Regions from separate parts of the Homo sapiens genome. Here region 1 is linked to region 2. The links come from fine-mapping of genetic effects on gene expression. A gene starts in region 2. The other region holds a variant in brackets. All regions are shown on one strand. Distances are between the middles of the regions. Region 1 overlaps CAMK1D (calcium/calmodulin dependent protein kinase ID). Region 2 holds the start of CAMK1D (calcium/calmodulin dependent protein kinase ID).

The links. PIP is the estimated chance that this variant, and not a neighbour inherited with it, causes the effect.
Region 1: its variant is fine-mapped to the expression of CAMK1D in monocytes after interferon gamma (Fairfax 2014, PIP 0.90).

Annotation. Positions count from the first base shown.
Region 1 is chr10:12,825,099-12,833,420 of GRCh38, reverse strand. CAMK1D (calcium/calmodulin dependent protein kinase ID) reads right to left here. Exons shown (of 11, transcript NM_153498.4): 10 at 7,731-7,848; 11 at 1-4,652. The coding sequence ends at 4,534. Among named protein-coding and RNA genes, the nearest start is that of MIR548Q, 100 kb to the right of the region's middle. The variant G/A (reference allele first, on the strand shown) is at 5,086.
Region 2 is chr10:12,345,504-12,353,802 of GRCh38, reverse strand. CAMK1D (calcium/calmodulin dependent protein kinase ID) reads right to left here and starts at 4,256. Exons shown (of 11, transcript NM_153498.4): 1 at 3,893-4,256. The coding sequence starts at 3,984. RefSeq lists enhancers at 3,108-3,267, 3,442-3,941 and silencers at 3,978-4,067, 4,238-4,797, 4,838-5,097.

The DNA.
Region 1 (8,322 bases), 480 kb before region 2:
ATGCTCATAAAATAGCAAGCCCCAGTGGGTTAATCAGGTTAAGCTGTCATTCCACAGGGGAGAGGATCAATCCACTTTCCAAAGGGGATCACCTGGGCTCCCCCCATTCCCCCCACCCCGTGTGCCTGGTGTTCTCGGCTTCTGTCCCTCCCACCTACGATTCATCCAGGGCATGATGGACACTAGGGTAGACAGATGAGTGGGATGAGTACGGGGTAGGTAAACCGAGTCCGGGGCTCCCTAGGCCAGATTCCTTTCATCCTACTACAGATATTTCCTATGAGCCCAGCCTTGGCCAGCATGGCCATCTTTTTTGAGACGGAGTCTTGCTCTGTCACCCAGGCTGGAGTGCAGTGGCACGATCTCGGCTCACTGCAACCTCTGCCTCCCGGGTTCAAGCGATTCTCCTGCCTCAGCCTCCCGAGTAGCTGGGATTACAGGCACGCACCACCATGCCCAGCTAATTTTTGTATTTTTAGTAGAAACAGGGTTTCACCATGTTGGCCAGAATGGTCTTGATCTCTTGACCTTGTGATCTGCCCGCCTCGCTCTCCCAAAGCGCTGGGATTACAGGCGTGAGCCACTGCGCCCTGTCCACTGTCCATCTTCTTTTGCTCGCTCTATCCTGACTGCCGGGGCCCTGGACACTACACAAAGAGCTAGCTGGAGAGTGAGACTCTCTCAAAGGCCAGCGGTGGCTCAGAGACTCTACACCGTTCTCAAGGTCAGATGCTAGAAGTGACCAGAATTGTGGCCATGGTCAAGAACGCAAAGCCACTCTTCCTTTTTTTAACTTTGTATGGCACGCTTTGCCATAGCTCTTTTCTTTTAAAAGAAGACCTGAAGGGGTAGAATGTTTTCTAGTCTCCGACAGAGGCAGGGGTAGGAGGAACTGGTGAAAATCAGCCACTGTGCACTGCCAGAGCCGTGCATGGTCCTGGGGGTTGCCATTTCTCTAACACAGCAAACCCCGTCTCTCCTCAAGGGCTTTGGTGGTCATTGAGCTTCTCCTAGGTGTGCCCTGCGCCTCTGCACCACTTCATTCTGAGGCTCCGGACCCGTGTGCCCGCTGGGAAGCAGAGCCGTAGAGAGGCAGACAGCTGCCCAGACTCCAGACTCCAAGGCCACCTCTGTGAAAAGGGCCAAGCTGCTGGCCTGTTGGTGCCCGCTCACTGTTTGTCTCAATGAATAGAAACTCCTCCTATTGCCTCACGTATGAGATGAAGATCCGGGAAGCCAGGGAGCCCAGACAGGCAGCTGAGGGAAAGGCCACTCCAGGCCACTACTTCAACATTGAATACTCCAAGTGAGGAAAAGAGAATCCACTTGCTCTGAGAAGGGATAGTGACCAAATGGGGGACTTGGGCTCAGGAAGGAAGCCTGTGATGGGGTCTACGCGTCCACCCTTAGCCTCAGCCCAGCACCCTGGGTGCATGTAGAAATGCTCAGCCTCTACAGGTGGACTCTGACCTTGGTGCGGGTCCTAGGACTCTGAGACCCCATTTGTCAGACCTTCACGAAAGGCACATTCTAGGTTCTCTTCCTGTTTTATAAGAAAACAAATCATACCAAGCGCAGTGCAAAGACAACCTCTTTTTAACATGAGAGCTCTCTCAAAAGCACAAGAGCGCCTCTCTTTCTCTGAAGCAATAGGAAATTAACCCAAGCCTGGTGGGATCAGGACAGTACAGGCTTCCTGATGTCATGCTCAACAGTTGACTCTTGGGCTGAAACCAGTCACTGTCTCCTCGCACGATGTTGTTGAGACCCGGCGTGTGACAGGCCAAGCATGGCCAAGAACTGACCCGAACAGCGAGGGGGGCACCTGCACCACGGCTCACCTTTCAGAGGTTCTGCACTTTTTGGGTGAGGGATACTTTCAAACTAAGTGCATATAACATGCACCACATGTATCTGCTCCTGAAAATACTTCAATCACCAGTAATGGAACTCAGCTTCAAATGCTGCTTTCTGAATGCAAATGGTTGTATATAGCACACAGCACAAAGGGCTATTCATCACTATTCATGTACTCATCCTAGGTACCAGATTCGGGTGCATTTTCAGCGCTTGCAGCCTTCTATTACTTTGTCATGCACTGTATGAACTCGAATGTTTCCAAGACACTTCTTAGTAAGCAACCGCCTAGTTCTCCAATACTGCTTATAATATTCATTCATTGCATGGCCAACTCAGGTGACACTTGCTTCTTAACTGGGTCTAATGTCATCTTATAGACCTTTCCAGGGTTTTTAGATTTTGCAGAGTGACAGCTTGATTTTTCACCCTGTGAGCATGCGTGGCAGATGCCATGCAGAATTCCTGCCAAGCAGTGGAGTGCCTGTGAAGTGTGCGGGGACAGGGTAGACCAGCTGCCTGTCTTCCCAACTGCTCTTCTCTGTGCCTGCACTGCCATTCTCAGGGAGCAGGATGGAGCTGCTGTGCCTAATAACATTGTGTGTGTGTGTGTGTGTGTGTGTGTGTGTGTGTGTGTTTATTGAGAGGGTGGGGGGGCATCACTCAACATTCAGCCTGTACATACTCAAAGGTGTAGAAGTGACAAAGATGACTCAACCAACAGGACTTCCCATGACTGGCCAGCCAGAGGAAGAGGGCATGAGGACACAGCCAGCAGCGTTACTGGGTCGTGATGACGCAGACCTGCCGGGACACCCCCGTGGGCTCGAGGCATTGGATGGGCCTGAGAGCTGAAGCAGGGGCACTTGCAGGAATGGCACTTGAAGCCACCTGCCTGGCTTTACAGGGCAGCCTCCTGGAAGCCTCCATGAAACGCAGCTTTCCCTGGGCCACACACTGCCTGGCTCCACAAAGGCGAACAACACAGCCTGCTTTGCCCCGGATATTCCTGGTTTTGGCATTAAATGTCCACAGCCTGAGAAATCCTTCAGTCTCGGGCAAATGGGACGTTTGGTGACCCTACCACCATGTATCTTTGATTTTAGACTCCCCTGACCAATGGGAGGGCTGCAAGCACTGGCTGGGCCTGGCGGAGGTGGTCTTTGGTCATCTCTGTGGTGGCTGAAGTCCCATTAGCCTGGCAGGGCCCCCTCTCCTTACCACCAGAAATGGATCCTTTCCCAAGGCTGCTTCCCTCCCTTCCTTCCCTTGGAAAACATTCATGTGAGAAGAGGGTAAAAATGTGGAGAAAGAACTTTGTGTTGGAGGCCACGTGAAGTGTAAGATTAGAAATGCATTTTTTTAAAAACCACAGAGAAAGAGATGAATTTTAACACTGCATAGCTGAGCTTTCATCTGTTAGCTCTCGTGAGAAATGAGGGTTGTGTGTGGGCCCACTTTCAGCAACATGGCAGCTGGTTCCTTTTGCAAGGGAGGGTCCTGCATCTCTGCAGTGTGGGCATCTCACTCACAGCAAGTCTGGCCTGTGAAGCTGAGCCCTGCGTCTCGGGGGAGCAGGCTTATTTCTGGTTGCTGATGGCAAGAGGCCTCTAGGGTCTCTGGTGGGTGTGGGTTCTGCTGGATGGGTTGCCAGCAAAGGCTCTGTGCAGATTCTCTACCAAAGTCCCCCGCAGAGAAGAGAGCCTCGCAGAACTGAGGGGCCCCTCCTCCTGGGGAAGGGGAGAGAAACAGAAGGAGTAGAGGTGAAGGGCACTCTTAGCCTTGGAGACAGATTCATGATCCTCTTGTTAGAATTTTTTTTTTTTTTTTTGAGACAGAGTCTTGCTCTGTCACCCAGGCTGGAGTGCAGTGGCACGATCTCAGCTCACTGCAACCTCCGTCTCCCGGGTTCAAGCAATTCTCCTGCCTCAGCCTCCCGAGTAGCCGGGACTACAGGTGTGTGCCACCACGCCCGGCTAATTTTTTGTATTTTTAGTAGACGTGGGGTTTCACCATGTTGGCCAGGATGGCCTTGATCTCCTGACCTTGTGATCCGCCCGACTTGGCCTCCCAACGTGCTGGGATTACAGGCATGAGTCATTGCACCCGGCTGATCCTCTTATTAGAATTTTAAAAAATACCTTTAAATTCTCCTTTGAGGAAAAACAAATCTCTTAAAGGTTAACATAAAACTACTATTAAAGAGGAAAAGATATAGGTCATGTAACTTAGAGATACAAAGGACATACTTCTTAAAAGGAAAAACAAACCCTAATGCACAATATTTACCAATATTTAAATAATCCAGTTGAAACCTTTTTTTTTTTGTCATTAATGAAAAAACACACCATAGACGGTTACCTACACTGAGAAGAGTGGAAACGATGGTGTTAGGGGAGAGGAATAAGAAGGTCCGTTCAGTTAGAGCTTTGCAAGATTCGTATATACAGCACCAGATCCTATGAAATCAGCGCCCCTCGAGTCAGTACAGTTTGTGAGAAATGAACACTTCAGAATTGCAGTAGAAAATATGGCCATAAAAAAACTTCGGTCTTCCAGTCCTATGCAGGAAGGGGCACCATGCAAGGTGGGGTCTCGCTGGAGTGGCTCGCGGCTCTGGCGACCCTGGGGCTCCCCTTCCCCAGCCCCGACCCCGGGCCCCACCTCCAGGGCCAGTCACTTGCTTCCAGAGTGCACTGCCGTCACAGTGGTGGGCCTGGGTCTCCGCTCGGCTCCAACTCCTGAGACCCCCGACGAAGAAGAAATGAAACTACAGAGCGTGGAAGGTGCCAGACCTGCAGGGAACAGCAGAAGTGGGCTTCAGAGTTTCAGAGGTAAATTCTCACCCTGCTTCCCACTGCCAGGTGTCAGAGGGGCTGGGTTTATGGTGGGGGGCGGGGGGGCCCAATTTTTTTTTTTTCTTGAGATGGAGTTTCACTCTTTTCACCAGGCTGGAGTGCAGTGGCACGATCTCGGGTCACTGCAACCTCTGCCTGCCAGGTTCAAGCGATTCTCGTGCTTCAGCCTCCCGAGTAGCTGGGATTACAGGGGCTCACCACCACGCCGGGCTAATTTTTGTATTTTTAGTAGAGATGGGGTTTCACCATGTTGGCCAGGCTGGTCTCGAACTCCTGACCTCAGGTGATCCACCCACCTCAGCCTCCCAAAGTGCTGGGATTACGGGTGTGAGCCACCGCGCCCAACTTGCGGGGACCCAAATTTTTACCC[G/A]TGTGACTATTTTTACCTACCTGTGGGAAAGCCTTTGCAATGGGTTCAAAATGCTTTATTCTTAGACCTCTCCTCTCCTTTTTTTTGGTGTAATTTTAACTGCTTTGTGTTTGAAAACAACATGGTTTCACCACTGTGGTACAACAGGTTCCATGTACTGAGCACTTAATATGTAGCAGGCACCAGGCTAGTGTTGACTACATACTGTCATCATACGAATTGTCCACTTCTTATAATAGCTCTGTAAAGCAGGTATTTTAAGAAGGAATAAAGAATGATACTACCTTCCTACCCTTGGTTGGTGTGTTGTGTACACTCTTGGCTAGAAAGCATTTTGTGACGCAGAGCACTTTGAAATAAGGGTATGGTGGCTGACGCCTGTAATCTCAACACTTTGGGAGGCCAAGGTGGGTGGATCGCTTGAGTCTCAGGAGTTCCAGACCAGCTGGGGCAACCCTGGGTCTACAAAAAATACAAAAATTAGCTGCGCACGGTGGTACATGCCTGTTGTCCCAGCTACTCAGAAGGCTGAGACAGGAGGATTACTTGAGCCTAGGAGGTTGAGGTTGCAGTGAGCCGTGACTGTGCCACTGCACTCCAGTCTGGGTGACAGAGAGTGAGAGAAAGAGAGAAGAAGAGAGAGGAGAGAGGAGAAAGGAGAGGGGAGAAGGGAGAGAGGAGAGAGGAGAGGGGAGAGGGGAGAGAGGAGAGAGGAGAGAGGAGGGGAGGGGAAGGCAGGGCAAGGCAGGGCAGGGCAGGGCAGGTTAGTGGAGGAGAGGAGAAGAAAGACAAGAAAAGAAAGAAAGAAAGAAAGAAAGAAAGAAAGAAAGAAAGAAAGAAAGAAAGAAAGAAAGAAAGAAAGACAGACAGACAAAGAAAGAAAAGAAAGAAAGAAAGAAGGAAGGAAGGAAGGAAAGAAAGAGAGAAAGAAGAAAGGAAGGAAGGAAGGGAAAGAAAAAGAAAGAAAGAGAAAGAAAGAAAGGAAGAAGGAAGGAAGGAAGAGAAGAGAGAGAAAGAAAGAAAAGAAAAAGAGAGAGAAAGAAAGAAAGAAAAAGAAAAGAAAGAGAAGGAAAGAAAAAGAAAGAAAGAAGGGAGGGAGGGAAGGAAAGAAGGAAGGAAAGGAAGGAGGGAGGCAGGGAGGGAAAAGAAAAGAGAGAAGAGAGAGGGAAGGAGGGAAATAAAGGAGGGAAAGAAAAAGAAAGGAAAGCAAAAAGAAAAGAAAAAAGAGCAAGAATAGAGATGTTCACCTATTCCTGTGTGAGCTCAGCAGTCCCTGGCCTAGTGGAGCTCCTCAGAGGCTGCGCTGAAGCCCTCCCCCAGAGGATGTGCAGGCATCAAAAGCCTTGATATGAGAGGCCTCAGCCGCCACTGAGCTTGTTGGTGCAGGCCCCCAGGGAGTCTGTGTGCTCAGACATGGGGACAAACAGCCATACAAGGAGTGCTCCCGACGGGCTTTGCTGCCGATGCCAGTGTATGAATCTGTAAAGAAGGGATCCATCGTGGGGTTCCCTTTGACCAGAGGGTGGAAAAGATTCAGGGTGAAAGGGGAGCTATGGTATGTCAGGGGACACTCACAGAGATTTCTTGGGAAAATTTAAGGGCTGGATGGTCCCAAATGAGATGGGAAGATTCCTTAGAGAGGAAGGGAATCCTTTTCTGAGCCAAATGGGAAGGAGCATGATGCCCAGGGTGAGACCAGGCTGCAGGGCTGCTCCATGGTTAGGGAGATTAGGGCCACTGCTCTGATGTGGAGAGGACCCATGGGAAGGGCCAAACGGGATTATTTCCACAGAGAGAGGAGCAGTTGGGGAGAGAGATAAGGAGAGAGTAAGTGTGCCTTCGATGATGGAATAGCCCATGCAAAGACGAAGGACAATGAAATACTATTACTTTTATTGCAAAGTCAATGCACTTCACATAAATGAGCTCAAATTATCATTGTCTGCATCCAAAATATATACATTATGGAAGTCAATGGCAGGAGGCTGTCCTGAGGCTCTGCTCTCCCTTCCTCAATCCGCAAGAGTGACTGTACAATGAGAGGTAAATCAGAGGGAAGGATGGAGATGAGAAAGAGTCCAGGCCTTTATCCAGACAGACATGGCTGCGAGGACTTGAGCCCTGGATTCCTCAACTGTAAATGGAAATAGCAATACCTAGGGTTCCACGAGTGTTCAATGATTTTTCTTTTTTTTTTTTGAGAGGGAGTCTCAATCTGTCACCCAGGCTGGAGTGCAGTGGTGTGATCTCAGCTCATTGCAACCTCCGCTTCCTGGGTTCAAGTGATTCTCCTGCCTCAGCCTCCCAAGTAGCTGACATTACAGGTGCTCGCCACCACACCCGGCTAATTTTTATATTTTAGTAGAGATGGGGTTTCACCATGTTGGTCAGGCTGGTCTTAAAACTCCTGAACTCAAACAGTCCTCCTGCCTCAGCCTCCCAAAGTGTTGGGATTACAGGCGTGAGCCACTGCACCCAGCCCAGTGATTACATGTTAAAAAAAGTCCTAGGGTCGCATGACATGGGATTAAGTATAGAAAGCGCCTGGCAAACAGGAGGTGCTCGGCAGATGCCGGCTCCCTCCTCTCCACCCCAGGCTCGTCTTCAGTGTCAGCTGAGGGATTCTGGTTTTGCTACATACGCACAGTCTTTTTGGCTGGCCAAACTGAGGCTGCTCGAAACACTTGCATTTGAACTGTCCAGGCTGCTGCCGAGGTGTAGTTTTCTCATATGTCTGACGACGGCCGTGGCATTAAATGCTTGCTGAAATTTCAGAAAGGAAAAAAGCAGACAAATATTTCAGCTAATCGGAAAAGACTCTAACTGTGTTCTCTTGTTTATCACATTAGCCTAAGCATTTCAAACTCCTTACATCATTCTCATGCTACTCAAGAAGGAAAGCTTATGTTGTCCCTTCTTCTAAAAGTGCACTGATTTATTAACCCCTTTCCCCAACTAAATATTTTAGAGACTTAAAATAGTTTTCTTCTGACATCATAAATACATAGAATAAACATAAACCAATTCTCTCTGTAATTTAAGAGATGTGGCCTTTAGAATAAAAGGCATATTATAATACCTTAAAAATGTGAGATTTGAAAATAGTTTTTATTTTCCTAGTATTGGTACTTTTGTCTGAAAGATTTAGGTTGGTGCAAAAGTAATGGCAATTTTAATGGAAGAAACCACAACTACTTTTGCGCCAACCTAATGATAGCATGTCCTATGAATACAGCA
Region 2 (8,299 bases):
TGCCAAGGGTCTGAAAACATGTTGATTAATAGACAATAATTAAGTCTCACCACCTTATTCAGAGATATGGTTATGTTCTGGGATTCCCTTTTGTAGGAGGCTGCACTGAAGCGCACAGGTTGAAAGGTTTGTCCCTGAGACCTGACTCAGAGGTGCATCAGACAACCCAGGCCAGACCACAAAGCCCAGTCCTTTCTCTTATGCTGCTCTTTGCTTCCTCAATCTCATTTTCCACCCTCCTGGGCCAACCTTCACTCCCATTCGGCCCCCACTCTCCAGCAAGGTCCCTCTAACCATACAGCCTAACCGCCTTGACCCCTTAGCTTCCAACAGTAAATGCTCGGCTCCATGAGGTGAGATACCTGGATAAGGCAGTGGATATCAGATTACAAAGTCTGGCAAAATGAGTGCTCCTCCAGCCTTTGCAATGCTTTATTTTAAATACATGTGAACATTGTGAGCTGACAGCCCTGCTTCTTACAAGGCTTTCCTGCCTTCGTATCTTAAAGACGTAGGGAGAAAGTAGGGCAAACAAAGTGACTGGAACTGCGGCATACTTTGGAAATGAATGCCAGTGGTTAATTGTCGATGCCTTTCATTTGTGTTAGATTTCATTCAAAACAAGAGAAGGGCCCAGACTCAAAATCCCCACTGAAGGGACCAGAAGTCAACTCCACATTAAGACTCGGGCCAGAGTCACCGGTCATGGCCCAGGGTGGAGCAGGCATCTTGAACTGGGGACCACTTCTAGAAAGTACACAGAGGCGGCTGGGCGCAGTAGCTCACGCCTGTAATCCCAGCACTTTGGGAGGCCGAGGCAGGCGGATCATGAGGTCAGGAGATCGAGACCATCCTGGCTAACACGGTGAAACCCCGTCTCTACTAAAAATACAAAAAAATTAGCCAGGCATGGCGGCGGGCGTCTGTAGTCCCAGTTACTCGGGAGGCTGAGACAGGAGAATGGCGTGAACCCATGAGGCAGAGCTTGCAGTGAGCCGAGATTGCGCCACTGCACTCCAGCCTGGGCAACAGAGTGAGACTCCGTCTCAAAAAAAAAAAAAAGAAAGTCCACAGAAGCAAAAGGACGACAATCCAAAAGCTCTGAAATGCTTCCAAGTTTTCCAAGTTTAGATAACATTATGCTATCATTATTGCCATCATTATGTTTTCTCATTTATTTTATTTTATTTTTTTGAGACCGAGTCTCACTCTGTGGCCCAGGCTGGAGGGCAGTGGCGCAATCTCAACTCACTGAAATCTCTGCCTCCCCAGTTCAAGCGATTCTCCTGCCTCAGCCTCCCGAGTAGCTGGAATTATAGGCACACACCACCACACCCGGCTAATTTTGTTATTGTTAGTAGCAACAGGGTTTCACCATGTTGGCCAGGCTGGTCTCGAACTCCTGACTTAAGTGATCAGCTCGCCTCAGCCTCCCAAAGTGTTGGGATTACAGGTGTGAGCCACCACGCCCAGCCCATTATGTTTTCTTTACATTAATATTAAAGTTCGCGTTCCAAATACTAAAGTTAAGTCAAATTATTGACTAAGCATTGGCCATTACAGGATCTACAAAGTGTGTCAACCCTGTATGGACAATCAAAAGTTGCTCTGCCTATCTGTGAATACCAGCTCCGCCACTTAATAGTTAGCTAAGGTTTGGTAGCTCACATAATTATCTCTGCTGCCTTAGTTTTCTCATCTGCAAATTGGGTGTAATGGTAAATACCTACCTCATAAGGTTACTCTGAGATTTAAATGAGTTAATACACATAAGGCACGTAGAATAATACCTGATCCTGGGTATACATTTCAGAATACCACCTATGATTACCATGATTATTATGTGGAGTAAAAACATCTTGATCATCACACTGTTTCTATCATTCTTCTAGGTCCAATGCCAGTGCTACAGTGGGAAGCTCCTTTGCAAAGAATTCCATCCCAGGCAGAAGGCAATGCTTTAGGACCCTAAGAGAGACCCATTCCCAAAGCTCACAGGGAACATGGCTGGAGTCCAAGAGGCTGTTCTGCCAGAGAAGCGCTCTGGCACCAGAGGGCAAATCCCCATTTTTCCCCAAGGTGGAAACCACCCACAGTCATCTCCAAACACCATGCTCCAGCAGGAGCCACAGCTTGGAGCCTCAGCAGCCCCGCCACTGCAGAGGTGCAGCTGCACGAGTCAGTCAGGGGACAGGGCATCAGTCACCCGGAGGCTACAGGCAGGAAGCCAGTGTGGGGGGCTCGGGTGGGAACAAGCCACGGACAGGAAAGCATTCACACAGGGTGGGTCCCCATGCTCTCCCATCTCCTCATTGGCGGCCACAGTGCGGGTCCTGGATGACAAGCAAAGGCCATGCTTTCTTGTCTCTCAGTAACTTGAGCATCTCAGAATCACAACCCCAAACCCGAATAAACCTCAGTGGCAATTTTCAAAAGTTTTGACCCAAACTAACCCCTTACCTGGCTGCACTAAGAGGCAACCCCAAACCCCTATTTATTAAAAAGCTACATCTTTTTCTGTTTTCATTCCAACAAAGATAGCAAATAGGTGCCCTCCCTGAAAGGCAACAACCACAGCAGGGAGACCCCACTCTAGTCCTCAGCGTGCGCCTTCCCGGGAATCAGAAGCAGGACTGGGAAAGCCACCCTCACAACTTCTCTCCGGGGGACCCCCTGCAGATCTGCGTGGGGGTGAGGGGAAATGACTGAACAGCAGCAGACGCCGAGCCTGGAGGTGAAGACAAGCTGGGTAATGTGGTGCTGGAAAAAAGAAACCAAGCACAAAAACAAGCACACGGAAAAAAAGGAGGAAGGAAAGAAAGGGCACCCAACAACGCACTGATTTATCCCATGAAATAGCTCCCCTTTCTCTTCCCAGCCTAATCAACACCTCCATGAACCCCTGCAAAATGGGCATTTCTGACTGCACACCTGTGCGTGAATCCACACTGACAGATACTGATGCAGAGCAAATACTGATTGTGTGAGGGAAGGAAATAACTTGAACTTCAGACTCATTCGGCAGGTCCTGATTCTCTTTCACTATCAGCCTCCCCACCTATTCTGAGCCGCTCCGAAACAAAACAAACAAGACCCAACTCCTGGGCAGAAAGGGAACAGCAGCTGAGCTGAGCAGCACATGCTTGGAGCGTTCCTGCCATCGACTTCGGATTATTTCTGCTTTCTTGAGACACAGCCATCAGCATGGGACTCGATGCAGCCCGGAGAGAGCACCGCCCGCGCAGCGACGCGCACAGACCCTCCCTTGGAGACGCGCTCCCCGGCGCGTGCGGCCGAGCCCGCGTGAAATGCACAGACCCTCCGGTGAGGCTCTGCCCACGTGTGACCCTGAGCACTGCGAAGCCCTTCCCTTCCATCCTCGCGTGGCCACCCAAAGTCTTGCCTACACCTCGTACGTGCAGATGCCAATTCCATAGAAATACATGATGTAAGGACAGAAATGGGAACGACTGGAGGCTGATCTTCTCGTGACCACGTCTCGCCAACGCGGTGCGCCCATGCACACGGCGAGTAAACGCACACAGCCGGTAAACAGCCATCCCCACCATGCTCAGCCCACAGTCACGCGTGGGGAGAAGGCAGCGGAGAGGGCGGCGGTGGCAGGAGAAGTGGGAAGTCGCGCGCCCGCGTGGGCTGCTCCCTGACAGCCCGGCGCTGCCCCCTCCCCCTCCCGGGAACGGCGCCCACCCGGGGGTCGCAGGCCCACGCGTCGGGCGCGCTCGGGGGGGCTCCGCAGCGCCGAGAACGGGACAATGAGGACGCGGTGACAGGCTGGGTTTCTGCCGCGGTAGTGGCGGCGGCGGCAGCTGGAGCTGCCCGTGCAGCCCCTGCCGCGGCCACCTCCACCCTCGCCTCCCCGGTCCCCACTTACGTTCCGAGGGTCTCTTTGAACTCGAAGATCTTCTTGATGTCTTCAGCTTGCTTTTTCCAGGAGGAGCTGCTCTCGCCGTTCTCCCGGGCCATGGCCGACGAGCGCGGCGCGGAGGAGCGGCCGGGGGCGCGCTGGGGAGGGGGCGCCGGGGGCGCGGCGCGGGCGCAGAGGCGGCGGGGATGCCGGGCGGCTCGGGCTGCGGCGCAGCTTCCTCCTCTGCAGTTTCCTCTTTCGCTCTCGCCGCCGCCGCCGCGGCCGCGGTCCCTCCCTGGCTCTTATTTCTGCTGTTCTCGGGCACAGACTTCCTGCCGCCGCCGCGCGCCGGCTCCTTTGCCGCCGCCTGCCAGCCTCACTTTCTGCTACTTTCTTGCCTCCCTCCCGCTCCCTCCCTGCCGCCCGCCGCGCTCCCCCCCACCTCGCGCCTCCTCCCCCTCCTCCCCCTCCTCCCCCTCCCGCGGGCTCCCCGCCCTCTCCGTGCGCCCCGGCCGCTCCCCGCCTCCAGCGCGCCGCCTTCGGGGATGTCCCGCTCCCCTCCCAAGAGCGCCGGGCCACGGCCGTCGTGCCCCCTGGAGCCCCGGCGAGGGCGGGTACGGGCCCCCGGCAGGTGCGGGGCGCACGCGGGAGAGCCCCAGCCCCTCCGGGAGCTGGAAACGGAGCCCAGTCTGGGGGCGCCGGGGCTTTCCCGTCTCCGGCGGGAGGGGGCGCCTCTGCGTGGCTCGGAAGCGCCGGGCGGGCGGGGGTGCGCGGCGGCCGGATGCGGGGCGCCGAGGGCGGGGCGCCTTCCCGCGCTGTGGCCTGTGGCCCGGGGGACCCGAGGGGCAAGGCGTGGGGTGGGGGGGGTGGGGGCCGGTTGTTATGGCGACGGGCGGCGGCGGCGGCTGGGATGGAGGCGGAGGCGGGCGGGAGCTCATTCGCATTGCACCAAATCGGTTTCACGTCAGTTTCGGGACAGACCCGCGAGGAGCAAGCCGGGGAGCCTCTGGGCGGGTACGCGCAGGACGCGCCAGCAGCTGCCTCGTGGTCCCTTTGCGAGCAAAACTCCCGGGGGTGTTTGGCAGCCGCGCGGGCGCCCTGGTGCTGGGCTGGAGCGGCCGGCGGGCCTGGCCGGCCTGGTTGCCCTGGCTCACGCTTGGCCCCTTCTGGCATCTCCCTGTCTCCTCCCAGAGACTCAGTGGAAAGAAGTGATCGTCTGCCCCGCAGTCCCCTCGAAGGAGGAGCCCACCCGCGGCTGGCTTAGTAGGGTGTCCGGGTTGCGGGGCAGGCACCTGCTTTCCTATGGACTGCCAAAACTAACCCAGAGAATTCCCTCCGGACTCCCATCTCCCAGCTGTACTTTGGCCTGCCCGCCCCACTCCTGGTGTCCACCTGTCAGAGGGCAGCCCACGTGCTCCAGTTCCCTGGTCCCCAACCTGCAGGGGCGACCTCTTGATCGGAAAATTTTAGATTTCTTGGTATCAACACTTCGCCTCCCTCAGGGCCTCTCCTCGTAGTTGGGTAAACAGCTCTGTCTCTTGACTGGGGACACCTGTCCCATTTTCCCAGGACTGTTCCAATTTCACTGTAAAAGGAAAAAAAAAATCTGCTCCCTGAATAGGAAACTTCATCCAGCACCTTGTGCCTAGTTCTGACTCTGGCTGAAGTGGAGGCAGCCCAGCTGCTCTCCCTCAGCCCCTACTCTGACCCTAAAGAGGTCAGACGACACCCTGGCATCCCCATTCCTGGGACCTCCATGCTAGTTTCCATCTTTCAAAGACGGTTAGCTTAAGGTTTTCCAAACTGAGAAGAGCAAAGAGGGGATTTACTTGCCGGTTAGATGTAGAATAAATCCACAAACCCAATTTCCAACACGGATGGGTGAGAAGAATTACTAAGGAACCTCTCTTATACTTGAGGCACATTACCAAAGTTCAAGGCAAACAGCATCCCCTTCAATAAGAAACATTTGAAAAACTATCATGTATTTTACTTGTGCCAAAGGTTAGATAATACAAACAGTGGGAACCAGGGCATAAGTCAACTAAGATCCCAACTGTCGCTTTCTCATGCCTACAGTCAGCATCTTCTTGTCCTTTCTTTCTCCTTCCCTTCCTCCCACTGTGTTTCCTTCTCCTCTTTTCCTATTTGGTTCTCTGCTATGTTGCCCTTGCTGCCTGGCCTCAGGAACAGCCGCCAGAGCTCATGAAAACAATTCTCATTCTCAGCTATTATCCCCACAGCTGAAGAAGTGCTGATTCTCTACTACCCGGCCATAAAAAAGAATGAAATCATGTCTTTTGCAGCAACGCAGTTGGAACTGAAGGCCATTATCTTAGGTGAAATAACTCAGAAACAGAAAGTCAAATACCACATGTTCTCACTTAGAAGTGAGAGCTAAGGCTAGGCATGGTGGCTCACGCCTGTAATCCCAGCACTTTGGGAGGCCTAGGCCAGTGGATCACCTGAGGTCAGGAGTTCAAGACCAGCCTGGCCAACATGGTGAAACTCTATTAAAAATAAAAATTAGCCAGGCATGGTGGCACATGCCTGTAATCCCAGCTACTCAGGAGGCTGAGGCAGGAGAATCACTGTAACCTAGGAGGTTGCAGTGAGCGAAGATTGCACCATTGCACTCCAGCCTGGCGACAGAGCAAGACTCCATCTCAAAAAAAAAAAAAGGAGAAGAAGTGGGAGCTAAATAATGTGTATATGTGGACAGAGAGTGTGGAATAATGACATTGGAGTGGGGTAGGGGAAGGGATGAGAAATTAACTAATGGGCATGGTGTACCCTATTCTGGTGATGGTTAAGCTAAAAGCCCAGACCTCACCACTACGCAATATATCCATGTAACAAAACTGCACTTGTACCCCTAAATCTATAAAAATAACCATTAGAAAAAAAGAAAGAAGGCAATTTTACAGGAACAGTAAAGATGAAGGGAAAGCAAATGAGAACTTCCACGTGGCCTGTGGCCGTGACTTTTCCTACCAGGCTATAAGCTCCATGAGAGCAAGGCACCTGTTAACTTTCTCGCCACTGTTTCCCAGCACCTGACACGGTAACCTACCCATACTGACTGATCTGTAAATGTGTGTCGAATGGATAAAGAAATGAAATTGAGGCCAGGCGTGGCAGCTCACGCCTGTAAAATGCCAGCACTTTAAGAGGCAGAGGCAGGCGGATCACCTAAGATCAGGAGTATGAGACCAGCCCGGCCAACATGGTGAAACCCTGTCTCTGCTAAAACTACAAAAATTAGCCGGGCGTGGTGGTGTGCGCCTGTATCCCAGCTACTCAGGAGGCTGAGGCAGGAGAATCACTTGAACCCAGGAGGCAGAGGTTGCAGTGAGCCGAGATCATGCCACTGCACTCCAGCCTGGTCAACAGAGTGATATTCTGTTCAAAAAAAAAAAAAAAGAAAGAAATGAAATCGAGTTAAGACCGCTATTTGGTATTTGTTGTACTGGTGGAACTGCTGTAGGGAGCTTTATTTCTTTTCCAGACTTTCTGTAATGATGTTCATTTGGCATTATCAAGCTATTCTAAGCTGGACGAGGTCCTCAAGAAAAAGCATACTTCTTTTTTTTCTTTATTTTCTTTTTTTTTTTTTTAAGACAAATTCTTGCTCTGTCGCCACGGTAGAGTGCGGTGATCTCAGCTCACTGTAACCTCCACCACCCAGGTTCAAGCGATTCTCCTGCCTCAGCCTCCCGAGTAGCTGAGACTACAGACACGTACCACCATAACTGACTAATTTTTCTACTTTCAGTAGAGATGGGGTTTCTCCATTTTGGCCAGGCTGGTCTCAAACTCCTGACCTGAAGGGATCTGCCCACCTCAACTCCCCAAAGTGCTGGGGTTACAGGGGTGAGAAACTGCACCTGGCCAAGACACAAACTTTTTTTTTTCCAGAGTCTCGCTCTGTCGCCCAGGCTGCAGTGCAGTGGCGTGATCTCAGCTCACTGCAACCTCCACCTCCCGGGTTCAAGCAATTATTCTGCCTCAGCCTCCTGAGTAGCTGGGACTACAGGTGCGTGCCACCACACCTGGCTAACTTTTCGTATTTTTAGTAGAGACGTAATCCCAGCTACTCAGGAGTTCAGGACCAGCCTGGCCAACATGGTGAAACCCCGTCTCTACTAAAAATGGAAAAATTGGCCGGGCGCAGTGGCTCACGCCTGTAATCCCAGCATTTTGGGAGGCCAAGGTAGGTGGATCATGAGGTCAGAAGATCGAGACCATCCTGGCTAACACGGTGAAACCCTGTCTCTACTAAAAAAAAAAAGAATACAAAAAAATTAGCCGGGCGTGGTGGCAGGTGCCTGTAGTCCCAGCTACTCAGGAGGCTGAGGCGGGAGAATGGCGTGAACCCGGGAGGCGGAGCTGGCAGTGAGCCAAGAGCGTCCACTGCACTCCAGCCTGGGTGAC